Homo sapiens: one gene and its partners. The protein of the gene in region 5 purifies or fractionates together with the protein of the main gene of each other region. This does not show direct contact. Each region holds a gene or a part of one and is shown on either strand. Other genes may lie near its edges. The genes, in order: GTPBP10, GATD3, CUX1, LSM12, IRF2, SKIC3 and NUDT19.

Evidence for each region.
Region 1: the proteins of IRF2 (region 5) and GTPBP10 purify together in Homo sapiens (affinity purification with mass spectrometry; one large-scale study listed by BioGRID and IntAct). This does not show direct contact.
Region 2: the proteins of IRF2 (region 5) and GATD3 purify together in Homo sapiens (affinity purification with mass spectrometry; one large-scale study listed by BioGRID and IntAct). This does not show direct contact.
Region 3: the proteins of IRF2 (region 5) and CUX1 purify together in Homo sapiens (affinity purification with mass spectrometry, with the first as the bait; one large-scale study listed by BioGRID). This does not show direct contact.
Region 4: the proteins of IRF2 (region 5) and LSM12 purify together in Homo sapiens (affinity purification with mass spectrometry; one large-scale study listed by BioGRID and IntAct). This does not show direct contact.
Region 6: the proteins of IRF2 (region 5) and SKIC3 purify together in Homo sapiens (affinity purification with mass spectrometry; one large-scale study listed by BioGRID and IntAct). This does not show direct contact.
Region 7: the proteins of IRF2 (region 5) and NUDT19 purify together in Homo sapiens (affinity purification with mass spectrometry; one large-scale study listed by BioGRID and IntAct). This does not show direct contact.

Annotation. Positions count from the first base shown.
Region 1 is NC_000007.14:90,352,833-90,356,784, forward strand, and holds part of GTPBP10 (GTP-binding protein 10), read left to right. Parts: coding exon 1-177; intron 178-1,625; coding exon 1,626-1,717; intron 1,718-2,253; coding exon 2,254-2,398; intron 2,399-2,874; exon of another isoform or gene 2,875-3,952. UniProt on the Homo sapiens protein: May be involved in the ribosome maturation process. Complements an ObgE(CgtA) function in E.coli ribosome maturation. Plays a role of GTPase in vitro. When missing, disorganization of the nucleolar architecture is observed.
Region 2 is NC_000021.9:44,136,312-44,140,263, reverse strand, and holds part of GATD3 (glutamine amidotransferase-like class 1 domain-containing protein 3, mitochondrial isoform 1 precursor), read right to left. Parts: intron 3,088-3,952; coding exon 2,968-3,087; intron 15-2,967; coding exon 1-14.
Region 3 is NC_000007.14:101,820,215-101,824,166, reverse strand, and holds part of CUX1 (Homeobox protein cut-like 1), read right to left. Parts: intron 1-3,952. UniProt on the Homo sapiens protein: May be involved in intra-Golgi retrograde transport.
Region 4 is NC_000017.11:44,038,903-44,042,854, reverse strand, and holds part of LSM12 (protein LSM12), read left to right. Parts: intron 1-2,598; coding exon 2,599-2,708; intron 2,709-3,952. UniProt on the Homo sapiens protein: Nicotinic acid adenine dinucleotide phosphate (NAADP) binding protein. Confers NAADP sensitivity to the two pore channel complex (TPCs) by acting as TPC accessory protein necessary for NAADP-evoked Ca(2+) release.
Region 5 is NC_000004.12:184,390,821-184,394,772, reverse strand, and holds part of IRF2 (interferon regulatory factor 2), read left to right. Parts: intron 1-3,952. UniProt on the Homo sapiens protein: Specifically binds to the upstream regulatory region of type I IFN and IFN-inducible MHC class I genes (the interferon consensus sequence (ICS)) and represses those genes. Also acts as an activator for several genes including H4 and IL7.
Region 6 is NC_000005.10:95,516,785-95,520,736, forward strand, and holds part of SKIC3 (superkiller complex protein 3), read right to left. Parts: coding exon 3,932-3,952; intron 539-3,931; coding exon 362-538; intron 277-361; coding exon 132-276; intron 1-131. UniProt on the Homo sapiens protein: Component of the SKI complex, a multiprotein complex that assists the RNA-degrading exosome during the mRNA decay and quality-control pathways.
Region 7 is NC_000019.10:32,690,351-32,695,029, forward strand, and holds the start of NUDT19 (acyl-coenzyme A diphosphatase NUDT19 precursor), read left to right. Parts: upstream 1-1,470; 5' UTR 1,471-1,610; coding exon 1,611-2,324; intron 2,325-2,614; exon of another isoform or gene 2,615-3,744; intron 3,745-4,679. UniProt on the Homo sapiens protein: Fatty acyl-coenzyme A (CoA) diphosphatase that hydrolyzes fatty acyl-CoA to yield acyl-4'-phosphopantetheine and adenosine 3',5'-bisphosphate.

The DNA of each region.
Region 1 (3,952 bases), on a different chromosome or scaffold from region 5:
TAAGCTAAGACTCTTCACCAGGGGAGGATCCGGTGGAATGGGTTATCCTCGTTTAGGTGGAGAAGGTGGAAAAGGTGGTGATGTCTGGGTTGTAGCCCAGAACAGAATGACTTTAAAACAACTTAAAGACAGGTATCCTCGGAAACGGTTTGTGGCTGGAGTAGGAGCAAACAGCAAGTAAGTAATTACTGAATGACTTAAATTTTAGAAAATCAAACCCTTCTGGAAATTTTTTTTTTAGTTACAAAATAAAAACTTAATTGTTAATTTGAAGTAAATTATTTCCTGTATTTATAACCAAGCAAAAGCCTAAAATGTCTCAACTCATAAAAGACTGATACTAAAGAATATTTCAGAGTTTTAAAACTTTCTGTCCGTTTCTTTTCCCAATGTCTATCTGTATTCTTTTTGCACTTCCCCTGTAGAAACCGATAATTATCTGAATTCCCACTGTTTTCTTCTAAAATTATCTTTGACAACCTTTTAGAAAACTTTCAGTCTTAACCATGCTACTCTACCCCACCACCATTAGAAGGCAAGATAACCACTATTAACCTTTTCTTGACTTTTCTAAGACTTTTCTGTGTGTTTACACAAATGCAATTATGTGCCTAAAAGTTTAGAATACAAAAATGAGAGTACAGTATTTTACAATCTGCTATTTTTACTTTTTTTCACATGTCAAAATTATTCAGAATACCTGCATAATAAATAACTATTTTGTCATTTGTCTATTTAGGTTATTGTTGATTTTTTTTTCCGATTATAACCACAGTGCAGCATTCTGTGTAGATACTATTTTACATGTTTGTTCAATTATTATTTTGATAAATTCCCAGAAGTAGAATTACTAAAACATTTGTACTAATTTTTTCTTTTATGAGCAGTTTAAGAGTAGCCAGATTTGCCTTCTATAATGTAAGTACTCTCATTTGAGGTTAGTTTTTTAAAAGCTTTGCTATTTGGTGGATTTTCTTTTTTTTTTTATAGATTCATTTTTTCTTTTTTTTTTGAGACAGAGTCTCATTCTGTTGCCTAGGTTGAGTGTAGTGGGCACTATCATAGCTCACTGCAGCCTCTACCTTTCAGGCTGAAGTGATCCTCCCACCTCTGCCTCCCAAGTAGCTGAGACTACGGGTATGTGCCACCATGCCCAGCTAATTTTTAAATTTTTCTTTTTTTGTAGAAATGGGGTCGTGCTATGGTGTTCAGGCTTGTCTTGAACTCCTGGACTCAAGAGATCCTCCTGCCTCCGCCTCCCAAAGTGCTGAGATTACAGGCGTGAGCCACCACGCCTGGCTTTTTCTACCCTATTTGTATTGTAGCAATAATCTCTTCATTTCATGGTTGCAATATTTTAGTTTCGGGTTAAAATGACCTTTGGTGGTTAGCTTAGTAACTTAAATCATTACTTAATGCCATTTTAGTGGGATATAATAGTCTAAAATGCAAAGAAATAATTAGGGATAATTTTAGTTTTTTTAAACCCCGTGTTTGACCATTTAACATCTGCGTTAACCAGAGAATTGATTGCTACTCTTCTTTGTAAACCATTTTGTGTGTATGTGTGTGTGTGTATATATACACACACACATACATACATATATATACTTTTTTTTTGGTAGAATTAGTGCACTGAAAGGCTCCAAAGGAAAAGACTGTGAAATCCCTGTGCCTGTGGGTATTTCAGTAACTGATGAAAATGGTAAAATTATAGGTGAGTGTACTATAACTCCAAAAGTTGTAAAAATGTGCACGTTTTCTAAAATGAAACAATGGAATAGCTTCTCTTGAGTTTCAGAAGATTTTTTAACTAACAATTTTAGCTACTATTCTATAAGAGAGCATTTTTAAAACTTATAAAAGTTAAATTGACTGCTAGATTTAAGATTGTTTTAAAGATGTTACAGTTCTTACTTGGTCTTAAAATATATAACTAGGCTCTTTTCAATTGTTTACTGAAGTGTTTTTCTGGGGTCAAACTTTTAATAGATTTGTAAATTGGAATTTCCTGGACTGTTTTTCTGAAAGAACAATATTACATTAATGATTCTACTTATTAATTATAGATTTGTAATTGAGAATTTCCTGGCATGTATTTTTGAAAGTAAAATATTACATTAATGATTTCACTTACTAATCTATAGATTTGTAATTTTGCATTTCTTTGCCTGTATTTCTGAAAGAAATATATTGCATTAGTGATTTCACTTATTAATCTTTGCTGTAAGTATTTCTCTCCCTCTTTTTAAGGAGAACTCAATAAAGAAAATGACAGAATTTTGGTAGCTCAAGGAGGTCTTGGTGGTAAATTACTTACAAATTTCTTACCATTGAAAGGCCAGAAACGAATAATTCACCTTGATCTAAAACTTATAGCTGATGTAGGCCTAGTAGGGTAAGTATCGTTCATATTTTTATTATTATACTTTCAGAGAGAGAGTTCTTGAATAGAAAATAAATGTAAATGGTAATTTGGGGCCATAATTATTTCTAATTTATGGAATTTGTGTGTTGTGTATGTACTTGGAAAATATGCTGCTAAATATTATTTTCAAATTGCCAACACAGAGTTTCATAGTTATTGCTTATTTATAAAATTAAGACCAGAGCAATTGAATAGATCAGTGGGAATGTTAGAGAATGCATAAAGAAAGAAAAATCAATCAAATGCAATATTACAAGATGGTTAAATAATGTTACCAGATATTAATAATAAATCCAAACAAACCGTATTATTATTAAAAATATATAGAAGGAAATAAACAGGGAAAAATGGTTGACATAACTCTTTTGGGTCTTAATAGAGACATTAAAGTATCGTTAATCAAATGGCTAAAGACCAGTACAGACAATCTCAATCCTCAGACTTACGCACTGTTGCCGCCAAATTGAATCCTGCTATGACTGTATATCCTTCTTGCCTCTGCTTAGGATCTATCTAGTCTCAGCAATGTAGGCCTCACAAGAGTGTCCTCTTCCACCAGCCTCCATTCTTTCATTAAATAATGCTGTTTAGCTGTGGGGTTTGCAGTGCAGCTGCCCACTGGAAGGGGATAGATAGTAAGATACAGAATACATAAAGGAAGAGAAAACTTCAATTTGCATTTGCTCTCTCTCCCCCATCCCCCCTCCCTCCTATCCTCTCCCTCTGGCCCTATCACAGTATTACACAGTTATTCAGATGGAAAGCTTAAGGACAAGATAAGGAAAACTGCCTTATTACTGTCCTACTCCAAATTCCTAGTTCTATTTTTTGCTTCCCCATAGCTTCTTTCTAAGTTCTTTTCATGTTCCTCTTCAGTCATCTCACTGCTTCTTTACCAGACTCTTAAGTCTGTATCCCTCGTCTTTTGCCCTGCCTGACCAGCCACTAGAGCTTACCACCATTGGTTTAGGGTTCACAGAGGCCCCATTCCTGCTAAAATTATAACAAGGAAAGATGTGATCCTGGCTTGCCATTTACATTTATTTTTTTCAATAAAGCACAGTTACAAGAGTTATTAGATGTAAGTTCTATAATCCTCTATATTTTTAGGAACATTATGGGCTTAATAGGGTCTTATGGACAAGACTGGCAGTCCAGCCAATCACAGTTGCATTTTGCATAAACATGTGTTTCAAGTTCTGAAGAGACAACTTTACAGTCTAAGAGGAGCCTAGCACGGCTTAGTCATAAAAGTGGAGTGGCATGGAGGACTCAGGTTAGACTATTTAGGTTAGGATCTCAAATCCTCTGGAGGCTGGCCAGCTGGTCTTGGGTAAATTACACAGCCTCTCTAAGCCTTTGTTTTCTCTTCTTTTTTTCTTTTCTTTTCTCTCATTCTTCCTTCACTATAGTTTTTTGCTTTTCACCACGTCATTTGTTTTCTCATCTTTAATAGTGTATGGAGATAAGTCTTTCCTTAAAATGTTGGTGGGTAAGATAATGCATTTACAGCAGAATACATGC
Region 2 (3,952 bases), on a different chromosome or scaffold from region 5:
CGGCAAACGTGCTCCTACCGGGAGACAAAAGGCCTCCTCAGACAGCCTCACAACCAGGGTCTATTCCTGGGGGGCTTCCTAGGCACAGCTCCAGACCCTCAGTCAGCTGCAGCAAGGGACATGGGCATGGCTGCACATATGCGCGTTTGATGTGAACATATTTTCCTGTTTTTTAAACAGAAATAAGCATAGGAAGCAGGAGGATCAGGAAGTGGTGCAGCAGGAGGCCACCAGGGCGAGAGGGCCCACGCCCTGGAACCTTCCGGAGCAGCTGGCAGAACCCGGGCTGCGGTGCTGAGACTCAGACGCTGGTTTCCGGCTCCTAACTCCCGTGCTGCTTGTTAGCTTTCTGTTACGACGTTGGCTGTGTCGGGCCTCGGGCAGCCTCTGACCTTCCCGCCTGCCCTTTACCTGCCCCAAAGCAGGACTCTAATGTTCCCCGCCTTTCTGACTGTGGGTCTCAGGACCCTCTCCTGAGAGGGTCCCCCACTCCCCGGGGGAGAATGCTGACGTCATGTTTCCCTGAGCACTGTGAGCCACGCCAGCAAACGGGGTTGTGGGAACCCCAACTTGAAGCCAATTGGTCAGTTCCAGAGGCTCAGACAGTTTACCGGTATGTGTCAGAGGGCAGTTTTGGGGACGGAGCCCTCAACCCGTGCGATCGGACGCTACCCCGGGTCCATACTGTTGGAACTGAATTAGAAGGCAGCAGCGACCCCTGCGTGGTGCATGGGGAAGACCCTTCACACCCACCTTCTGTGTGGACAACTGTTGTGGTGGGAGGAGGAGAAACACGGTGTGAGAGTTTTTCCTTAAAACAAAGGGGCAGCAGGAAACTCCAGGAGTTCCCAAAAAAAGAAACGCAGTCGGCCTCCAGGCATACCAAGCACTCTTGCTTCGATGACCGTGAAAGAAACGCCAGTTTACCTGCGACACCAGCATCCACACCTCAGGCCGAGGAGCAGGAGCTGTGGAGGGCACGCGGGGCAGGGGAGGTCTCTCCACACTGCCCATGGGGCGTGTGATCTGGCAATGCCACCAAATCTACAAGTGGACACACCTTCCCACGAACCCACCCCTGGGCTCTACGCCACCCTCACGCACCCCAGTCCTCTGCCCCAGCATTTTCCACATGGCTTTGCTGGCAGAGTGCTGGGAATCTTCTGGAGGCAGTGGGTGTTCGCCGTCCCCATGGGTGACTGTCTCAGAGGGTGCAGAGTGGCCACGGCTGCAGCTCATTAGAGCGCGCCGCACCATGGACACGCAGGGCAGGCTCACCCAGAACGCTCTGGACAGGTCAGTGAAAATGGGAGCTTCGCCCAGGGGACGTGGGCTCAGACACACGGGCACATCAGTCCCAGGGCCCATCAACACCTTGAAAGCCAAGGCCAAGACCCACTGACCCTGAGAACCACCACACACCTCACGCCTGTGCCTCTGGGTTGGCAAAATGTGGAGGAGCCATGCCAGGGCACGGAGCCCCCAGCACACCCTCCAGCTGCCCCTGCGCCCCGCCACACACGGTGTCAGTGGTCAGAGCCTCGTGGAGACGGCAGCGACGCAGGGACAACTGGACAAAAGATCGAGCCTGACGTGGGGCTGCGTGAGGTCAGGGGTGTGGGCGGCACCGACGAGGCTTGCTGGCTTTCAGGAGACCGGGGACGACAGGCTGGGGTGGGGCTTCCGGTGAGAGAGGGGTGAGGGCACGGCCAAGGGCACTGAGAAAACAGCTGGCATCTGAGGAAGGAGGCCTCTGAGGTTTCGGGATAAGGAGGGGCGCATTCTTCGGATGGAGACTGCCTACCCCTCGACTCTGGGTGCAGGCTGCCCAGGGTGGGGCAAGCGGCCAGCCAGCCTCCAACCTGCCCTTGAAACAGGAGCTGCCGACCGGGGCCGGCCGTGCTGGGGCTGCCACCCACACCATGGCACAGAAGCCACCTGCACGCTCCGATGCACTGTGGCCAGTGCTCCTGCAGGTGGCAGAGCTGTCCCTGGAGGGTCAGCCTGGCACCACCTCCACCTCTCAGGCAGGGCCATGGGGGCGGTGCCCAGAGAACCTCCATGAATGTGCAAAGAGAGAGAGGAGACACAGAGAACAGAAAGAGGATCTGGAACTCAAGGACGCCACCGTGTGGGAGCCAGCCAGGCCTCCATGATTCACGGTCCAGCTACCAAAACAGCCACGCCAAGGCGGCCTCCCTTCTTCCTGTCAGGACCGCCGCCCAAACTACCAAGAAGGAAACCCATTTCTGATCCTGCAAGGTTCCATAAGAGAATTGGGGCCAGGCGCGGTGGCTCAGGCCTGGAATCCCAGCACTTTGGGAGGCAGGAGGGTTACTCGAGCCCAGAAGTTCCAGACCAATTTGGGCTACATACATGGCCAAAAAAAAAAAAAAACAAAACCATGGGCATGGTGACATGCGCCTATAGTCTCGGCTACTCAGGAGGATGAGGCTGGAGGATGGCTTGAGCCCAGGAGATCATGGCTGCAGTGAACTAGGATCGTGCCACTGCATCCCTGCCTGGGCAACAGACCAAGACCTCATCTCTACAGAAAAAAAAAAAAAAAAAGAGAGAGAGAGAGAAAAAAAACTGGCACTTGCAAGGAGTAAATACTCAGAGACTGATTTCAACGTGACGAGACCTACAGCACAGTGATGAGATAAGAGGGAGCCCCAAACCCACTCTGACAAGCTGCTGGGTACCAGGAATGCTGAGAGAAGAGGCAGCAGAGAAGCAGAAACAAAAGCATGGCTCGCTACAACGCTACCTAAGACCCAACCCTAAGAACAGCTCCCAAGTCAGAGGGCAGGCACGTGCCCTGCCCAGACCCTAAACCCAGAGACTGCTCCTATCACCACCCCCTCCCATCGCCGCTCCACTGACCACATTGGACAGCAGACAGGTGCACCCCCTTCCCATCTGCTCCACATGGAAAGCGGAAGACCTTGGAGCTCAAATACGCACAGGTTTTTAGCCGCTCCAAAGCCTCCTGGAAAGATGGCAGCATCATGGTTGGCTGCACTGAGGTTGGCCAGGTCTGTGATTTTGCCACGGGCGATCCTCGCAGACTCGGTCAAAACATTCCTGGGAAAGAGCACAGGGCAAAAAGCCTCAGCATGCAGGTGAAGGACTGTGGAGCGCGGCAGGGGCACAGCCCACAGGCAACACGCTCCACACACGTGGCTCTCAGCCACACGGGGACTTACTTCCAGGTCAGCATGTTTGGTCACTACCTGGAAAGACAACATGGTTCTAGCAACGCTAAATCTATGCTGGGCTCTTCCGATCAGCACTTCAGAACCTGCGCCAAATCACTCTGAATCTTCTGCAGTCAAGGCCCATGGGAAATGGAAGTCTCTCCGAGTGTCTAAAGCAGACAGAATTCTGTGCACTCATCAGGACGGTGGGACTCAGAGGGGAAGGTAAGAAGCCAGGACTCAGGACCAGTGAAGCAACCCGAAGGCCAGCCACCGCAGGAAGCTGCTAGCCCCCAGGTGTGGGGGCCGAAGGTGCAAGTCCAGGTGCAGAAGCCAGGGTCCCAGGCAGGAAAAGAAATCACAGGGGTCCCCACTGGTGAGAAGCACAGCCCCAGGAGGCAGCTATGGCTTCTTCCTCGAATCTCCAGCTCCGACCTCTCGTGGTCCGAGGCCAGTTGGAAGGCACCTTGGAATGGCCTGCACAGGGCTGTCAGGCAGGACAGGCAAGGGAAGGGGATCTCAGGCCACACAGGCCAGAACCACACACACCGCAGTAACAGACATGCTGCTGGGAACCAGCAAAACAGATCTGGAGCCCAGACAGGGGAAGAAGGTGGGCGACCAAGCTGAGAACCACCACCTTTGCTTAAGACCAAGGTATGAGCAGCCTGACTCAGTGGGAAGCGATCCGGTCGCCATTTTCAGTCCTTCTGTGAGTACTGGAAGGAAGGCACTCCTGAGCCTTGGCAGCA
Region 3 (3,952 bases), on a different chromosome or scaffold from region 5:
GCGGTGAGCGGAGTTTGTGCCACTGCACTCCAGGCTGGGCGACAGAGTGAGACTCCGTCTCAAAAAATAAAATAAAAAGAGTTGATATTCGTTCTGTCTTAAAGATATTAAACTATGTTAGAGAAAACAAAATCATGGCAATTCATTAGGGAGAAAGCCCCAGTTTAAGAAAAATTGTCTTGCTTTTGGGGGGAAATGGAAAGAAGCTTTTGTGTTGCATTTTGTTTTTCGGTTTGGTTTGGTTTGGTTTTTTCATATGCTGGGTGGACAGGATCTGAATGTCTTACATTTAACAAAAAGCTGTCAACACCCAGATAAATTTTTAATGACGGTACGACAGGCATTCTATTTCTCACTGTTTCGCAATACTCACTTAAGAAAGAGCTAATTTGTCAATTTGTTTTTCCCTTAACCAAACTCGGAACACCTCATAACCCATGGTTTACTTGTTAAAAAAATGTTAACTGCATTTCCTTATTGAATAAACACAGCCCAATAGAAAGGTATCTATAAGAAAACAAGCAGTGTGCCAGCATCCACTCAAAGTAACCCCAAGAAAGAACAAGCCACTTCCCTGGTGTCTCAGAGTAAGCTCTGTTAATTTCCTGCTTTGTTAACTGCATCAATCACACACGGTCAAGACCATCCAGACCATCCAAGATCTCAAGCTTCGGCTGATGGAGTCGGCCAGGGCCCGGTCCACTCTGGGGGGTCGTGTGCTTTATAAAGGTTCGGACCCCTTATTGGGCTCATTTTCACAAAGGTTTTCATGAAAGGAAGCAGAACCAAGTCAGTTTCACTTACTAGGAAACTCCCGGCTGGCTAGTTCTTGAGTTGCTGGCAGTGTTAGTAAATCCCTAGGAGGAACACCACCATCCTTGGCTCCGTTCCAGTCACCTGTGTGATTATGTTTCTCTGTGTAGGAAGACCCCTGAGGGTGGGATCTGTACCAGTCCTGCTTGTGGGGTCAGCCAGGGATTGGGCGACGAACTTTGTGGCCACAGTACCTGCACTTCCCATGGCCCGAGGCTCTAATCAACACAAAATTTCTGCCAACGGTCCTGGGCCTCCTGCAGTTAGGAAATGCCGTTGGATTAAAATAAAGAAATTGACAATCTTTATTTTGTGCACTAACATCATCCTCTCTGAATTTAATTACAACAAAATTAAAATTATTTTTATTAGAGAGGCATTAGCTTTTTAAAGGGAAGGTTCTTGACAGGTTTTACAACAAATTAGATGTCTTTTTTTTTTTTTTTTCTGAGACAGAGTCTCGCTCTGTCACCCAGGCTGCATGCAGAGCAGTCACACGATCTCAGCTCACTGCAACCTCCACCTCCTGGGCTCAAGCAATTCTCATGCCTCAGCCTGCCGAGTATCTGGGATTATGGATATGCGCCACCACGCCAGGCTAATTTTTGTATTTTTAGTAGAGATGAGGTTTTGCCATGTTGGCCAGGCTGGTCTCGAACTTCTGACCTCAAGTGATCTGCCTGCCTTGGCCTCCCAAAGTGCTGGGATTACAGGCATGAGCCACCGTGCCCGGCCTTAGACGTCTTTCGAAAAGAATGGTTCACCCTCACTGTGTAATACCCGAATAGGGCAGCACAAATGCTTTTTAAAAATCTTTTAAGTCACAAGCCAGGTGCTTCAAAGCTGTTTCAGGCGCAGGACAAATGAGGGGAACGGCACAGGTTCCCCTCAGTCCTGGTTCATTTCCTGCAGGGAAACCTCCATCCCCGCCAAAGACCACTCTCCTCCATCAACCTTCTCAGAAGACAGCAGAGAAGCTGGACTGATTACAGCTCAGCAAATCCAAAACTGCTCCATACCAAACCTTAGCTGTCCTCAGCAGGAAAATCCAACACTGACACACCATCGAAACTTGGTTCTGAAACACATCCCAAAACCAGGGTGATCGACAGCTTTTCAAGACCACGCCTTGAAAACTGGAATGGGTCAAATAACACAGTCAATCCAGAGGGCCCTGCCATTAATATTTAAGAAAACATCGGCCGGGCACGGTGGCTCACGCCTGTAATCCCAGCACTTTGGGAGGCCGAGGCGGGCAGATCACGAGGTCAGGAGATCGAGACCATCCTGGCTAACACAGTGAAACCTCGTCTCAACTAAAAATAGAAAAAATTAGCCGGGCGTGGTGGCGGGCGCCTGTAGTCCCAGCTACTCCGGAGGCTGAGGCAGGAGAATGGCGTGAACCCGGGAGGCTCAGCTTGCAGTGAGCCGAGATCGCGCCACTGCACTCCAGCCTGGGCCACAGAACCAGACTACATCTCAAAAAAAAAAAAAAACAAAAAAACAAAAAAACTAGCCAGGCATGGTGGCGGGCGCCTATCGTCCCAGCTACTCGGGAGACTAAGGAAGGAGAATGGCCTGAACCCTGGAGGCGGAGCTTGCAGTGAGCCGAGATCGCACCACTGCACTCCAGCCTGGGCGACAGAACCACGTCTCAAAAAAAAAAAAAAAAAAAAAAAAAAGAAAAAAGAAAAAAAGAAAAGAAAAGAAAATAGGGGCCGGGCACGGTGGCTCACGCCTGTAATCCCAGCACTTCGGGAGGCCAAGGCGGGCGGATCACTAAGTGAGGAGATCGAGACCATCCGGGCTAACACGGTGAAACCCCGTCTCTACTAAAAATACAAAAAATTAGCCAGGCCTGGTGGCCAGCGCCTGTAGTCCCAGCTACTCGGGAGGCTGAGGCAGGAGAATGGTGTGAACCCGGGAGGCGGAGTTTGCAGTGAGCTGAGATAGTGCCTCTGCACTCCGGCCTGGGCGAAAGAGCGAGACTCTGTCTCAAAAAAAAAAAAAAAGAAAGAAAATATCCCCCTCACCAAGTTAATACTTTTATGGTTGCTGGTGGAGCTTATATTCTCTAAATGTAGAATTTTTTTGGGGGCGGGGGGGAGTATCTTCTCTCTGAATTCTATATCATTATTGGGGTATAATAAAATGTACCTACATGCTCTGGTCAGTCAAGGTTCATCAAGTCAGAAATCACAAATGAATTCACAAATTCTTTGCTCTAAAGTCATATAACAATGCAGATATTAAATTGCTTGTCTAACTATACCATTAGATTCCTTTTTCACTCCATTATCGGCACACACACACACTTCTCTCGGCATCCAGGCATTCACAGGTATCCAGTTCCTAAAGCGCCCAGCACGACTGCTTTGTCCAGGTAAGCAACAGTGGGACATAAGGAGAGGCTGTGGGGCCCCTCTTCAAATAGCTTCGACAAAACGAATGGCTATAAGTGAAAAGTGTCCCTGGGCTTTGCTATAAAAAGACTCAAACATGGGATTCCAAGAATTCCACCTGTTTCCAATTAGATACCAGAATTGCTTGAGTGTTTAAGCTACACTCGCTTGCTACTTACACAAAACAATTCTTCCGGGTTTTGTGAACATTTTAAATATGTTAAAATAAGATTAAGGGTCTGGTTTAAACAATCGGAGGCAGGGAAATTTCGGTGGAAACCAAAACTCTCTCTCTGCAGCGATAACGCGGGGCTTCAGACAAAACAAAAGGACAAGACAGACAAATTTCTGTCTTTGACAATTATAATAAAAGTCACTTTTCATAGAGCAATTACATTTTTTAAAGTTATGTATTCAATAATTTTAAATAGGTCTTAAGTAATTTCTACAATAACTCACGATCCTGGATCCTGTATATTTGAATAATGGTTAGAGTTGCCTTTTACATACCATTTGTGTTACAATTCGTCAGATATACCTGTCTGTGAAATTTACATGTGACAAATGTGTAAACTATTTGAAATGGAAGCACGGGTAGGAATTTAACCTACCTCTGTAGGATTCTTCATATGATGAATTTCTCTGCTTACGAAATGTATGAGTTTTCCCCTAACAAACGTGTCCTTCCTTCATTTCACTAAAAACAGACGTTCCTGGGGCATTACAGAGGAGCTGAA
Region 4 (3,952 bases), on a different chromosome or scaffold from region 5:
TAGCTCACGCCTGTAATCCTAGCACTTTGGGAGGCCCAGGTGGGTGGATCACGAGGTCAGGAGATCGAGACCATCCTGGCTAACACAGTGAAACCCCATCTCTACTAAAAAACTACAAAAAAATTAGCTGGGCGTGGTGGCAGGCGCCTGTAGTCCCAGCTACTCGGGAGGCTGAGGCAGGAGAATGACGTGAACCTGGGAGGTGGAGCTTGCAGTGAGCAGAGCTTGCGCCACTGCACTCCAGCCTGGGCGACAGAGCGAGACTCCGTCTCAAAAAAAAAAAAAAAATTAGCTGGGGGTGGTGGCGGGCACCTGTAATCCCAGCTACTCTGGAGGCTGAGACAGGAGAATCGCTTGAACCCAGGAGGCGGAGGTTGCAGTGAGCTGAGATCGTGCCATTGTACTCCAGCCTGGGCAACAAGAGTGAAACTCAATCCCAAGAAAAAAAGCTATGCTTAGTTTATGGTTTGATGGATCACTGTAAAAGCAGAATATAAATGTTTGAAGATTCCAAGCATTAAGGTACTTTTGGAATATGCTGTAGGTATGGCTCCCCCATTTTTTTTTTGAGACGGAGTCTTGCTCTGTCGCCCAGGCTGGAGTGTAGTGGTACAATCTCGGCTCACTGCAGTCTCTGCCTCCCGTGTTCAAGCGATTCTCCTGTCTCAGCCTCCTGAGTAGGCGGGATTACAGGTGCACACCACCACACCCATCTAATTTTTGTATTTTTAGTAGAGACGGGGTTTCACCATGTTGGCCAGGTTGGTCTCAAACTCCTGACCTCAGGTGATCCGCCTGCCTCGGCCTCACAAAGTACTGGGATTATAGGCGTGAGCCACTGGGCCCAGCCAGTGCCTCTTTTTATTTAAGGAACTGATGTTTGGGGACAAATTGTGTGTTCTCGCGCGTGTTTGCACATGTGCTGCAGCATTGTTAGACTCAGCTGTTCATGTTCATGGGTCTGAAGAGTCTCCAGATTATTTGTTGGACTTTTAAGATGCATTGTTTGCCTTTAATTTGTTTTAACTACCTTGTCTAGCACATTTGTTTTGTCTTACACTCAAACAAATTTGTACCTCTGGAATCTCTAGCAACCAGTAGTGTGGGGTAGGGATCAGAAATGTGCTGGAGAGGTGATAGGGATTGACAGGGTAGAAGTTACGAGATTGTAGTAGACTACCAGATTTTACTAGATTTTCTTTTGATCAGTTTGTGGATGGTTCCACCAGAGGGCAGTGAAGGAACAGACATGACGTAGAATTCAGACTCTTCGTTTTTCTCAAAAGCAGGACAGGGTTGCCTTTAGCTAAAGTTAAAGGTGGACAGCGTTTATGGTTAGATTTACTTGAGTCCTGGCTCCCTATGTGAGCACAGATAATGTTCTGTAAGAGTTTTTAGAGTCTCAGATTGTGGTCTGTGAAGGTGTGGTATGTATTAATTTTTAAACTGGAGGCTCTAGCACAACAGCTGATAAATCTTAATTTTCGCCTTGAATGGAAATTCTGTGTGTGTGTGTGTGTTTGTGTGTGTGTGTGTGTGTGTGTGTGTGTGTGTGTGTGTGTGTTTGTTTTTTTTTTTTTTAAAGAGACAGAGTCTCACTTCTTTGCCCAGGCTGGAGTACAGTAGCATGATCTCGGCACACTGCAACATCTGCCTGCTGTGTTCAAGTGATTCTGCTGCCTCAGCCTTCTGAGTAGCTGGGATTACAGGCACGCACCACCATGCCCGGCTAATTTTTGTAATTTTAGTAGAGACGGGGTTTCACCATGTTGGCCAGGCTGGTCTCGAACTCCCTACCTCAGTGATGCACCCAGTTAGAAGTGTGTGTGTGTGTATGTGTATGTATTTTTTTTTGTTTGGTTTTGTTTTGTTTTGAGACGGAGTCTTGCTCTGTCACCCAGGCTAGAGTGCAGTGGCGCGATCTCAGCTCCCTGCAGCCTTCTCCTGGGTTCAAGCAATTCTCTGCCTCAGCCTCCCAAGTAGCTGGGATTACAGGAGCCCGCCACCACGCCTGGCTAATTTTTTTTTTTTTTTTGTATTTTTAGTAGAAACAGGGTTTTAACCATCTTGGCCAGGCTGGTCTTGACCTCCTGACCTCGTGATCCACCTGCCTCGGCCTCCCAAAGTGCTGGGATTACAGGCATGAGCCACCTCCCCTGGCCGGAAATGTATATATTTTTAAATCTCTGACCATCATTTGCCATCACATAGTCCCCCAGCCACACTCTATAATGTTAAAAGTGCTTTATTTTCTTCCTAGTGCTTATCACTGTCTGAAATCACCTTGATTTCAGTTACTTGTTTATAGTCTGTCTCCCCCACCCACTTCAGGCTATATTTAGCCTAGCATAGTGAATGTCTGGCACATGGTAGGTATGCAGTAAGTATTAGAAGGAAGGAAGGAACGTTTTCTTGGAATACCAGTAACTGTTCAGGTATGTCGTGGATTTTTAAAATTTGTTTCACTTTTCATTTCTGAGAAAACAGAATCTGTCCAAACAAGTCTTTCCTGGCCTCCTTTCTTCAGCTTAGGTCCTGACTGTTGGCAAGAATGAAGATGAATCCTATTCTGAGTCTCTTTCCTCTCTTCCACCCTAGCTTGCCAGCAAAGCACGGACAGAGAAGGAGGAGAAGCTGAGCCAGGCCTATGCAATCAGTGCTGGTGTCTCTCTAGAGGGCCAGCAGCTCTTCCAGACCATTCACAAGACGTGAGTTGGGATCGGAGAGGTCCTTTGTCCTGGGGTAATGCTACCTGGTTGTGCTGTCTGGTGGCAGGCTTTTGGGTGGTTGTCTTCCTAAAAGTCTACTGGGGAAGCTGGGTAGGGTATTGGCAATATGCCAGCATCCAGAGGTGCAGGTGCTGTAGCCCCCTTTCCACACAGAAGAATAGTGTAATCACGGACAAGTTGTCTTCTCTGGTCTTTAGTTGCTTGTCTGTAAAACTTAGTTTTGGATTAGATTATCCCTAAGGATCCCTTCTAGACCTAGTAGTCCATAACTTAGAACTAGTGATTTCTTCTCTTTGATTTTGTTGTTTTGTGCCTTTCTTTAAAAGCTGATGCAGTTTTTATTAAGGGAAAGTTATATCTATATCACTTTTCCCATTGTAGATTGGGATGAACACAGGGAGTTAGAGCAGGCCACCTTCTTACCACCTCTTAAAAGACATTTTGGGGCCGGGCGCGGTGGCTCACGCCTGTAATCCCAGCACTTTGGGAGGCCGAGGCAGGTGGATCATGAGGTCAGGAGATCGAGACCATCCTGGCTAACAAGGTGAAACCCCGTCTCTACTAAAAATACAAAAAATTAGCCGGGCGCGGTGGCGGGCGCCTGTAGTCCCAGCTACTCGGGAGGCTGAGGCAGGAGAATGGCGTGAACCCGGGAGGCGGAGCTTGCAGTGAGCCGAGATTGCGCCACTGCAGTCCGCAGTCCGGCCTGGGCGACAGAGCGAGACTCCGTCTCAAAAAAAAAAAAAAAAAAAAAAAAAAAGACATTTTGTTGGTCGGGCACGGTGGCTCACGCCTGTAATCCCAGCACTTTGGGAGGCCGAGGTGGGCGGTTCACCTGAGGTCGGGAGTTCCAGACCAGCCTGACCAACATGTTGAAACCCCCATCTCTACTAAAAATACAAAATTAGCCAGGCGTGGTGGTGCATACCTGTAATCCCAGCCACTTAGGAGGCTGAGGCAGGAGATTCGCTTGAACCCTGGAGGTGGAGGTTGTGGTGAGCCAAGATTGTGCATTGCATTCCAGCCTGGGCAACAAGAGCAAAACTCCGTCTCAAAAAAAAACATTTTGTCACAGCAGAAGTCATTTGACTCTCCACTAGCTTCCCTAGCTGCTGAAAAACTGGAACATTTGACACCCCTCTCCACCCCGCCTCCCCCCACCCCACACTGCCATCTGTTACTCTGTTTAACCACCCTGGATCTGGTGCACAGATGGCAGCTGG
Region 5 (3,952 bases):
TATTAGGTGGTTGATGGTTTAGTAGAAGAAAACCACAGTAGAATAATGGGGTGGGGGAGGATGGGTAAGAGGGGCTGGAGAGTAGACTCGAGAAGAAAACATCATCTGAAGGACTCACTGGCTATAATGAGAGAGTGGAGATCGCCTGCTGACCAGCAGCCATCAGTAAAGGCTTTGAATCCTTCGGGAAACCACACCAGGCTTGCATTTTGTTGGGCAGAGCAAAGACACAATCGCTTTGAGATTAAGAGGATTCCGATTTGAAAATAATTTACTCCTGGTGAAAGTAATTGAGAATATGATCAATAGAAAGAAATTCAAATCAAACTTGCTGAACAAGAGCCTTCCAGAAAGTGTAGCAGAATGTCAGAGTGCAAAAAGCCTTTCAGGTGAAAATGCATCCTCTCCCTTCCCGCAGTGTTCCTGCTTAGACAATATGTATATCCTCAGCGAGGCGTTAAAAACTGGACTGGATAGAGAGTGAACCTACAACCAGTGTCACCCTAGAACTGGAAGAGCTTTTGAGATCATCTAATCCAAATCCTCCCCTTCCCTCCCACCCTAGATGCTTTCAGGAAAACTGAGACCAGAAAGGTTAAGTGAATTACTCATGTGCCTGTTGGTACTGTACGAACACCTTCAGCTTCTTCATTTGTTTGGAGTTGCTGGAGAAGCAACTCCAGACTTCTTTATTCCATTGTATTCGAAGTAAGTAATAAACAAAAAGCAAAAACAAATTCAAACTAATCAAAAGGGAAAATGAAATGACAACGTATGTTGATAGTTCGATAGTAACACTGATCTGGAGGCCCAGCTGCAGTCAGCTCCCTTGTGTAAGAAGTCAGCGTGGAAGTGGCAATGGTGGTCAAACCAAGGAAACAGAGGACACGGGGCGCAGTGCATCCAACAAAGCACTTGGAGCCACCGATTCTGGGGTCACAGAGAGAACTGCTCCCCTCAGGGGGAGGTTCAGGGTTCTCTGCTCCTAAGCTAAGGTACTGAAGGCCCCTTTTTGAAACTGTCAGTGTCCTAATAGGGCGCATCTTCCTGACGACTTCAGATGCTGTGGAACTTAATCTAGACACGACGCTCTTTAACTCGCATTTGTGTCAGCTGAAAACATAAGTTCGGAGCATGTGTATCTTTTCTTATCTGCAGCTATTTCCCCGAAGCTGAAAACTGGGTACTTAAAGGAAGTTAGCATCCCGGTCACATTCATGGGCGGTGCAAGGTCTTACCCGGGAGCCTTACCCCAGGATCTGACTTCCAGCCCCTCCTGCACCTGCGACTGGGGCTGTGCTGGAATCCCAGCCCCCAAAGCATGCTTGGTTGCGTATCTTTGTTTGTATTTGGAGGGGAAAGGAAAAGAAGACAGTGATATTTATGGAGAGTCATTAGGAGTGAAGAGCATCTGAACCCGTATGAAAGGAAGAGAAAGCTTGGCTTTGGAGCACAAAGAAAGCTAAGCATAAAATGGAAAGCGGATCTTGAAATGTTGTCAGAGACCAGAACACCAGGGAAGCAGGGCTGCTGTGTGCAGTGCACAGGCCCTGGAATCAGAAGTACAGTTTTGTTTTCTCTCCTCTGTGCTGTCTCAGTTGGCAACTTTGGCAAGTTTCTCAACATCTCTGTTCCTCATTTTTCTTCTTGGGAGTGGCTGTTCCGATTCCTGCCTCCTCAGGATACTGAGCCAGCACGAGGGTTCTCTGAGGAGGGGAATTTTCTTTTTCTGTTGGTTTTCATGTGTTTCTGCGTGGAAACAATTCTTGTGCTCGGCAACGTCAGCTCATCTTCATAGCTGGGATCGTCGTCAGCTGAGGCTGAGGGCTTCTCTGGGTCTCTGTGGCTCCCAGCACGGGGTGTTTTGGGGAAACATGCCCAGTCCGAGGAGTGGAGAGATCTGTCTTCTGCATGCTCATGGCCAGCCCACCGCGATCACTCAGGTTTGTGTGAAGTTACTGGAGAACAGTGGCTGAGAAACAGGCCCAGAGACTCCAGGCTGGGACCAGTGGAGTCCACATTCTTACTTTCCTTGTTTAAGGAATGCACCTGTGGCACAGTTTGTCCATTTGTTCTTTTGCCTTTAATTGATAGAGAGCCTGGTCTGGGGCTAATGCTCTCAGTGGAAGAAAGGGCTCTGTCTGGGCTGGAGCCATCTCATCCCAGCTCTGCCACCAGGAAGATGTGAGACAGAGGCCAGCCCCTCAGCAGGGACCGGGTGGAAAGCTGGAAGGCACTGGAGCATAAGAGCTCTTCTGCGTAACGGGGGATGAGAGCAGCTGCTTGCTGACGTGGGACCCCTGTGAGACCTGCATGCAAAGCCTCTGACATGGCACTGACCCATAGGGCTCCCTAAATGTTTGCTTCTTTTAGAACACGAGCTTCACTTTTGGATTTTCTTGTGTTGTGAAATATACGTCACCTAAAATTTACCATACTTTTGGGTATGGGGTTATTAAATTCAGCATTGGAACTAAATAGGAGGAAAGGCAGTTAAAGGTTGCCATCAGGAAGAGAAGCTATTGCAGTTACTCTTTAGGCCTTGTCTGTAAAACGAATGGCTCAGGCTAAGTGATCTCTAAATGCCTAAATATTGCACAGGCTCTGCCCTCTGTGATTGCATTTCTCAATGGTTATGGACACTGGAATAATCGCACACCATTGATATTTTATTTTACAAAATCAAAATGTTTTTACGTTTAAAAAGCTTTTTATAAGCATAGGTCATGTGTAATCACTAGACTTCGATTCCATTAATCCAGCCTGTTGTGCAAACCCAGTGTTAAGCAGTGCTGATGTATGGAGTGTGTGCTGTGTGCCAGGCCCTTGCTAGGCCTTTCCCATGTACCCTCTCACTCACTCTCCATGTAATCCTCTTAGATGGTGGCAGTGCCCTCATTTTACAGAGGAGAAAACTGCAGCTCAGTAAAGGTGAGAAACTTGCCCAGTGTCTCACAGCTGGCAGGCCAAATGGGGATGGCAACTGATTGGCTGCCATAGCCATGCAGCCACAAACTTAGTGGCTTGAAGCGACACACATTTGGATCTTACAGTTTCTTTGAGTCACGAATCCAGGCGTGGCTTAGCTGGGTCCTCTGCTGCAGAGTCTTGCAAACCTGCCATGGAGGTGTTGGCTACAGCTGCTGTCTCATCTGAGGCTCAACTGGGGAAGGGTCCATTTCCAAGCTCATGTGGTTTTGGCAAAATTAAGTTTCTTGCAGGTTGTTGGACTAAGGGCCTCAGTCTCTTGCTGGCTGTTGGCTGGAAGCAGTCCTTAGTTCTTTGCCATAGGAGCCTTCCCAACATGGTTGCTTGCTTTATCAAGGCCAGCAAGGCAGAGTGTTTCCTCTCCCAGCAGGTTTCTGAGTTATGTAACATGATCATGGACACAGGATCACATCCATTTCATCCCCTTTGCTGTATCTTATTTGTTAGAAGCAGACACATTCCATCCACACTCAAGGGAGGCAATCCCAAAGAAAGTGAATCCAAGGAGGTGAGGATCATGGGGAGCACCCCAGATCTGTCCACCTACAGTAACCCACATGGCAGATGCAACTCTAGAAATCCAGGATCTAAGTCCTAAAGGGGTGAGAGGTAAAGGAAGGATCTGAGTGGGATGGGGATAATGTAGGAAGACCTTTTGGAAACGGTCAACTCTGCACTGGGAATTAAATGAATTGGTTGGCATGGATTGAAAGACAGGACCCATGTGGGCATTGTGGACAGAGCTGCAGTGAGGAGGGCCCCAGGGACCAGCGCCCCTTCCTGGGAGGTAGTGCCCAGTGTATACACAGCCCGGCCCTGGCCAAGGGAGCCTCCTCACAGCTCTCAAGCCTGGTTTCTCCGAAGATTACAGAGTTGAAATTCACTCTAGCTTCTCCCATGTAGAATGTTTCGCTTTACAAAGGGAGGGAGGTGATGCGTTTAGTTACTCAGTCTCCTTTTTATA
Region 6 (3,952 bases), on a different chromosome or scaffold from region 5:
CTTGGAATAGCAGCATGTATATCAAGATATATGTGGTTTTATGTGAAAACACTATTTACTTCATCCAAAACAACTTCGAGAAAAGCATTATGTTTTTGAAAAGGTTTATAAAAAATTTATTTATACCATACATGTAAAGATTTCTCCAGCAACTCCTTAAGATCATTCATGTTGCTGCCTGTTTCTGCTAGATGTTGTGCTTGGCGATAATAATTAATTCCAAGGTCACACCATGTATTAGATGTAGACATCAGTTTTAATGCACGACCATAACACCTACGGGAATATAAAAGTGAATGTTTTTTGTTACAATGCCTTAATTCAATTCAAATGTTATTAACTGGCAATCTTTGCAAATTACCTTCCTCCAAGGTGGAGGAGCTCATTTTTCTTTAATACTTGTTTTCCTTCTTTCTGACCTAGAAGGACTCCTAAAACATGAACATTCACTTTAGATGGTGCGACAGCATACAGACAGGTACAAGCATCCCCAGCTAGCTTCCAGAGGCAGGACACATCAGCTCGATGCTGTAGAGCACTAAAAAAAGAAACATTGTGATTCTTACAAATTATTTATAAAAAGCATGAAGTTTATCTCCCTGATTATTACTTAAAACAGAAAAACTGTACATTAAGTACTTTACTAGTCTCCTCCTAACTGAATCATATCATATCACCTCCCTAATAGGAAGGGAAGAAGAAAAGGAGAAAGGGAAGGAGGAAGGGATTACTTTAAGTGCCAGAAATTTTGTGGACACTTTTTTTTGTTACTCTTCACCATTTTTATTAGAAGTAGCAGCAATCACGCAAATAAATAAATAAGTTTTCCAGGACCAATTTCCTTTTAATATTAAAATGTTAAAACTATGCTTTTTGTGTTTAAGCAATGACCAAGGCAGTAAAGTTTGTAACTCTCTTACAACTGACAGTTGTAAACTCAGGTTTTTGCTTTTAGATCTTCTCTCATGCTGTGTAGTTTTGACTACATCCCCACAAAGCTCATGAGTTGGGAACTCAATCTCCAGGACAACAATGTTGAGAAGTAGGACCTTTAAGAGGTGATGATGTCATGAGGGCTCTGCCTCCCTAAATGGATTAATACTGTTATTGTAGGAATGGGTTAGTTGTCACAGGAGTCAGCTCCTGATAAAAGGGTAGGTTCAGTCCCATTTTTTTTCTCTTGCATTCTGCCCTTCTGCCATAGGATGACCCTCACCAAGATGCCAGCACCATGCTCCTGGACTTATCAGCCTCCAGAACCAAGTCAAATAAACTTCTGTTCTTTGTAAATTAACCAGTCCATGGTATTCTGTTATGGCAGCAAAAAATTGATGAAGACACCTCAAATAAAATATACCAAATATATTTGGTAAGATCTGAAAGATTTTTGTAAATTTTATTTTTTAATTGGCATAACTATATATATTGATGAGGTACAGAGATGTTTTGATACATATAATGTATTGTGATCAGATCAGGGTAATTAGCATATTAATCATCTCAAACATTTATAATTTCTTTGTGTTAGGAATGTTCACTATCCTCCTTCTAGCTATTTGAAACTATATATTATTGTTAACTACAGTCATCCTACAATGCTACAGAACACTAGAACTTATTCCTCCTATCTAGCGTAATTTTGTGTCCTTTAACAAGTATTACCCATATATCCTTTCCCCCTACCCTTCCCAGCTTCTAGTATCCTCTGTTCTACTTTTTACTTCTATGAGATCAATTTTTTTTTTAGCTTCCACATATGAGTAAGCACATATGGTGGTTAACTTTCTGTTCCTGGCTTATTTCACTTAACATAATGTCCTCCAGTTCTATCCAAATTGCCTTAAATGATAGCATTTCATTCTTTTTTATGGCTGAATAGTATTCCATTGCATATAAATACCACATTTTCTTTATCCATTCATCTGTTGTTGAATATCTAGGTTGATTCCATATCTCGACTATTGTGAATAGTGCTGCAATAAACATGAGGGTACAGATGTCTCTTTGATATAATGATTTTCTTTCCTTTGGATAAGTTCCCAGTGGTGGGGTTGCTGGATCATACGGTAGTTCTATTTGCAGTTTTTTGAGAAAACTCCATACTGTTCTCCACAGTGGCTACACTAGTTTGCATTCCCATAAACCATATAAGAGTTCTCTCTTCTCCACATCCTTGCCAGCCTTTATTTTTTGTCTTTTGAATAACAGACATCCTAACTGGGGTGACATGATACCTTACTGTGGTTTTGATTTGCATTTTCCTGATGATTGGTGATGTTGAACATTAATACCCTGAGACCAAAAAAAAAAAACAAAAATCTAAACATAAAAATCTGAAGAACTACATTTACCGAAACAAGAGCAGACTGAATGAACAAGCTCAAAAAGCAAAGAGAAATATTAATTATGGTGACAGAGGGCAATTCCTTTTAGAATGAGAAAAACTTCAGCTATACATTTTTCTTCATTTTTCTCTTCTCGAGATCTTATAAATAACACATGGCAATTTCATTTAAGCCAAGTCTCAATAATCAGCTATCACAAGCTGCTATGTTACTGGCAGATGGAAAAGCAGATGGAACATTTTTCATAGCCTTTTCTACTCATGGAGTCCAGCCAAAAATAATTTTCCAATGTCTTCCTAAGAAATAATATTAATTATTGTGGTCATAACTAAAAGCCCACTGAGAATCTGAAAGAAGGGCAATATGATTTGGAGTTCCTTTGCCTAAATATCTTAGCAAAATTTCTAAAATTGACAGCAAAAAATGAGAAGAGAGGAAAAAAGTGAAACAGGCGATTTTAAGAGCCTAAATTCTTATTTTGAGTTCAATAAAAATAAAATATCTATAAATTGAAGTAACTTATATCACCCTTACACAATAATTGTGATAGTATTAACGCCTTGTAAGTCTGGAAGTAAATATACATTTGGAGATTATAATTGTTTTATATGCCACCTTCTAATGGGTTATGTTACATGTTATCCAGAATAACATTTCCTAGGCTCAGAGAGGCAGTATTTATAGCTAAGGTACTGTCACCCAAAGGTTCACATTTACTCTTAAATAGCAGTTCAAATAAAGCATGCCCTTTACACAGTAACTTTCCCTTTAGAAAGAACTACATTATGTGAGACTTGAAAAGTAGCAATAAAATTCAGTGAGATAAAAAAGGGTTAGGTTTTCATTTCATATTTGGTTCATATGAAAAGCAATTCTGGAACAACCAATAAATACAAAACAGAGGAGAAACCAAGCAGGAAAAGAGGGGAAGTAGAAGAAAGATGTTTAAGAGTTACAAAAAATTCAAATGTACATCTAACTTGTGGACTTTTGGAAGTCTTCTACCACAGATAACACTTTTTCTGACCTAACCAATGAATTCACAGTTCTATAAAATGCCAAATCTACTCAAAATTTTCTGATTCCTTTCTTGTTATTAGACACATCACTTTTTTCCTTCACAGTTTCTCCTCAGGAGCAATCAGATTGTCATTTCCCCTTACCTTCAAGACCTACTAATAATCCTACAATTGGCTCTTACCACTGAATGTACAGCATATTGAGCACCTGAAGCCCTATTTCCCAATCGGTTCCAATTAAAGATACTCATTTCCAGGCCTACTGAAAGAGAACACTAACACATGGTGTCAGAGCTGCTGTTCCACTAGCAGACTGCTCCTTCCTTCCTATTCTTTCCTATGCATCTAGGATGCCAGCCACTACTAAGAGCAGAAGAAATTATATCTGTTTCCCCAAGTGCAAAATTAATACAACATGTATGTTATAGAATTGGCTTGTCTGTTATTCTTTATGTTTGACATTCTGAGCAATTGCTATATCTAGCAGAATACATAAAATGATCTTCTAAATTTGGCTTCATTTTAATATTACAAAAATAAACAATAAATAATAAGAATAATACGAACCAAGTAAAATATTCCAGTGCT
Region 7 (4,679 bases), on a different chromosome or scaffold from region 5:
ACAGCAAAGGGAGTAGTATGTTCTTAAGACCCTTAATCCCTCCATAAATGGTTAGTCATCTGTAAAATAGTGGTAACTGTTTCCACTTCATGGGGTTTTGTAAGAATTACACAACTAATACTAATAAAGTTCCTAGTGCCTCACACACTGTACCCAGTAACTACTAATATTATTATCCCCTAGGATTATTATTACTCCTAGTATTGAAGACATGTTACTTTAATCACCTGAGTGCCTTTCTCTCCATTGCTCTGTATTTTTATTTTATTTATTTATTTATTTTTTTGAGACAGAGTCTCGCTCTGTCACCCATGCCGGAATGCAGTGGCAGGATCTTGGCTCACAGCAACCTCCACCCAGATTCAAGTGATTCTCCTGCCTCAGCCTCCTGAGTAGCTGCAACTATAGGCGCGGGCCGCCACACCCAGCTAATTTTTGTATTTTTAGTAGAGGCGGGGTTTTGCCATGTTGGCCATGCTGGTCTTGAAGTCCTGGCCTCAGGTGATCCGACCACCTCGGCCTCCCAAAGTGCTGGGATTACAGGTGTAAGCCACAGCGCCTGGCCAGAGACCAGGTCTCTTCAAACAAAAAAACAAACAAAACCCCTAAATATTGACAATGTCATCTGTGGATTCTACCCAGGAAATAACCCACATTAAAATGATGGTTTGTGAGGGTCGGCAGGGGTATAGTGTATTTCATCCAAAAACATAACAAATGTGTGATCCAATTATAATAGCAATTATGGGAAAAGCTGTCGGTGACTGATAAGGAGTTATAAAAGAAAAGACTCAAATTTACACAGGCTTTTCAAAAGATCATAATCCTGCTATTGGAGGTGGAAGTCTTCTAGACACTAACAAGGTGGAGAGAAATCTCCATGTGGAGGCCCAGATTAAACATCTCCCATCAAAGTGGAACTCGTCAAATGTCCTAAGACACCTAAGGCCGTCCCCAGGCGCCCTGACAATAAAAGGTAACCAGAACACGAGAGAAATTACTCTGGGAGTACCTTTCACATTCAAGGTGTGCAGTAGGAAATTTATAAATTGGCATCTGGCTCGTCCATTCATTTCTCATTGGTGTGGTTCACGTGTGCTTGCAAAGGTCAGACTTCTGCCCTTCGAATGTCCTCTCTCCCTCTCCCACAGAAAACACCCACATGTGGGTCCTTGTTTAAAGCAGAAAGTCCTAGTCCTTAGCTTTTAGTGAGGTGGATGTCATCAGGCCTGGGTTGGCATCCTGTTTTTTACCATGGCAAGTCATATGCGCCCTTAAGCATTCCTGCTTTTGGTCCAAGCTTCCTGCGTGGGAATACTGCGGTCCTCCTTTCAGGCAGCTGTGAATGACAAACGGTCGCTGGCTGCCGTGACACCCATTGTCCCGCGAGAGTGCCCTAGCTGGGCCCCAGTGCACTCGAGGCGGTCCCTGCTCGGGTGCCCCTCCCACAGGCAGGCGCCGTTGCCGACCAAACGCCCAGGTTCACCCAACGCCAGAGGCTCGTCCTCAATTCCCGCGAGGCCCCCGGAGGTGCTGGGGTCCCTGCAGGGCCGGGCCACCTGCCGTGGAGCTCAGGCCGCGCCAGAATCGGATCCGGGAAGCTGCGCGCCATGAGCAGCTCCCTGCGGCCGGGCCCCAGCCGCTGGCGGCGGGCGGCCAGCATCGTCCTGGCGGCTGGCTGGTCGCGCCCGGAGACCGCCACCCCGCCGTCGCGCCCGCCGCCGGCCGAGGGCTTCCGGCTGCTGCTGCTGCAGCGCTCCCCGCACCAAGGCTTCATGCCGGGCGCGCACGTCTTCTCCGGCGGAGTGCTGGATGCGGCCGACCGCTCGGCGGACTGGCTGGGCCTCTTCGCGCCGCACCACGGGCCGCCGCGCTTCGGCCTGGGCCCGGCGCCATTCAGCCGCACCGCTTTCCCGTCGCTGCCCGACACCGATGACCACAAGACCGACAACACTGGGACGCTGCCTGAGGACGTAGCCTTCCGCATCTGCGCCGTGCGGGAGGCCTTTGAGGAGGCGGGCGTGCTGCTGCTGCGGCCCAGGACTTCCCCACCAGGCCCAGCACCCGGGCCTGGCCTCGCCCTGGAGCCACCGCCGGGCCTGGCCTCCTGGCGCGACCGCGTGCGCCAGGACCCGCGCCACTTCCTGCGGCTGTGCGCCCACCTCGACTGCACACCCGACATCTGGGCGCTGCACAACTGGAGCGCCTGGCTCACCCCTTTCTTGCGGGGCACCACTCGCCGCTTTGACACGGCCTTCTTCCTGTGCTGCCTGCGCGAGCCGCCGCCCGTCTACCCCGACTTGGCGGAGGTGGTGGGCTACCAGGTAAGGCCTGCTCAGGGCCTTGCTGCGGACCGCCAGGACGTGAGAGGGAGGACCCCTCCCAGCGGCCCAGGCCCCCAAGGGACCCCCGCATAGGCCAAGCCCAGAGAGATTAAGCAGCAAGGAACGCTTAGACGGGCTGGAAACTCTCACCCCTGTAGACCAAAGCCATGCTCTTGGTGAAGTGCTCTCTGCTTTCCTAGGCTTTGGGGTCTCAAGGCCTGGAGCCTGTCTCTCCACGTGGTTCCTCCAGCGTGGCCACTGTGTAAGCACTTGTACATGTGTAGACATAGTACATCTCCACAGCCGTTTAATTTGGTTTTCTTGGAGAACAGACTTAATATGATCCAGTCTTCCTATTTTTATTTATTTTTGGTACAGATGGGGGTCTTGTCTCTCTGTGTTGCACACCCAGGCTCGTCTCCAGCTCCTGGTGTGTCCAGAATTGGTTCCTTCCAGTGGGTTCTTGGTCTCGCTGACTTTAAGAATAAAGCCGCGGACCCTCGAAGTGAGTGTTACAGTTCTTAAAGATGGTGTGTCCAGTTTCTTCCTTCAGATGTTCAGATGTGTCTGGAGTTTCTTCCTTCTGGTAGGTTCGTGGTCTCGCTGACTTCAGGATTGAAGCCGCAGACCTTCGCAGTGAGTGTTACAGCTCTTAAAGGTGGTGCGTCAGGAGTTGTTTGTTCCTCTTGGTGGGTTTGTGGTCTCGCTGGCTTCAGGAGCGAAGCTGCAGACATTTGTGGTCAGTGTTACAGCTTATAAAGGTAGTGCGGACCCAAGGAGTGAGCAGCAGCAAGATTTATTGCAAAGAGCAAAAGAACAAACCTCCCACAGCGGAAGGGGATCAGAGCAGGTTGGGTGCTGGTGGCTGGGTGGCCAGCTTTTATTCCCTTATTTGGCCCTGCCCATGTCCTGCTGATTGGTCCATTTTGCAGAGTGCTGATTGGTCCATTTTTACAGAGTGCGGATTGGTGCGTTTACAAATCTTTAGCTAGACAGAGCACTGATTGGTGCGTTTTTACATAGTACTGATTGGTGCATTTACAAACCTTTAGCTAGACACAGAGCACTGATTGGTGCGTTTTTACAGAGTGCTGATTGGTGCATTTACAAATCTTTAGCTAGACAGAAAAGTTCTCCAAGTCCCCACTGGACCCAGGAAGTCCAGGGGCTTCACCTCTCAATCCCGCCTCTAAACAGGGCACCCCATCTGCTGTTGGGAATTGGGCAATGACTGCTCTAGCTACTTCCTGCTGGACAGGGGCAAAGAAGGGGCCCTGCAGTTGTAGTGTCCTCCAGAGGGGAACTCTCTAGGCCAGTGAAAGGGCCAGTGGGTCGGTCCAGGGGTCCTCGGTAGAAGTTGTTAGTTGAGCTCATTTGGGTTTCCGTTTGTAAGACCATCTGTAGTTTGATGGCCTTGATTCTAGAGGAAACAAATTTGACAAGGAGGTTAAAAATACAGGGCCCGAAGGCGAGTAATAGTAAAACGGCTGTCACAGGATGTAGAAAGGGGAGAAGCCATGTTGCCCAACTCCAGAGGTTGGTATAAGAGTTTGAAAGGCGTTGTCTGATTTCAGAAACCTTTTCCTGTAAATGCCGGGCGGCATCTTGCACTATCCCTGACTTGTTAGTGTAAAAACAACACTCTTCCCCTAAGGTGCAAAGTCCTCCTTTCTCAGCAGTGAGGAGGTCTAGGCCTCGGGGGTTTTGGAGAGTCACTGCTGCCAGAGTCTATTTGGGATTGTAGTTACTATCCTTACTGAATAGATTTTGTTATTTCTTGCAAACTGTCTGAGAAATACTTTGAGAGTGTGTGGTAGTAAGATAATGAAGTAGATAAACTGGCTATTCCGGTTCCTGTAGCAGTGGCCATTTCTAGCCCTATAAGTAGGGGTATCAGTTGTATGGCCCTGTGCTGATGGACTTGAGCTTTGAGGGGCACTGATAGGGTCTGATGTCCATAAGATTAGAAGTTAGGATAATATGTGTTACACTGTTAACTTTTAGCAAACTTTACTTTTGTTGAAAACCTTAAGTTTGGGATTTCAATTATTCTTTGCTATTAATAAGACCTCGTTCAGTCCATATTCACTTAAAATTGGTATAGATGGCTCCTTCCTGATTCTGTAAGTACTTTAAGGTTTGGCTGAGTGCAAACAGCTTGCACATTTGAGCAGACCAATTATTAGGCAATTTTCCTAACTCTGCTTCTGTAAGAGTTTCCTTATCACGTACTGAGTACCCATTGTGTCTTTTTCCTTAATCGCCCAGGAGGAAACATCTATCATCCTGTCCTGAAGGGGGTTCCTCCTATGTCTGGTCAGACCTTCAGATTTAGATCCCCTGTTAGGAACCTGC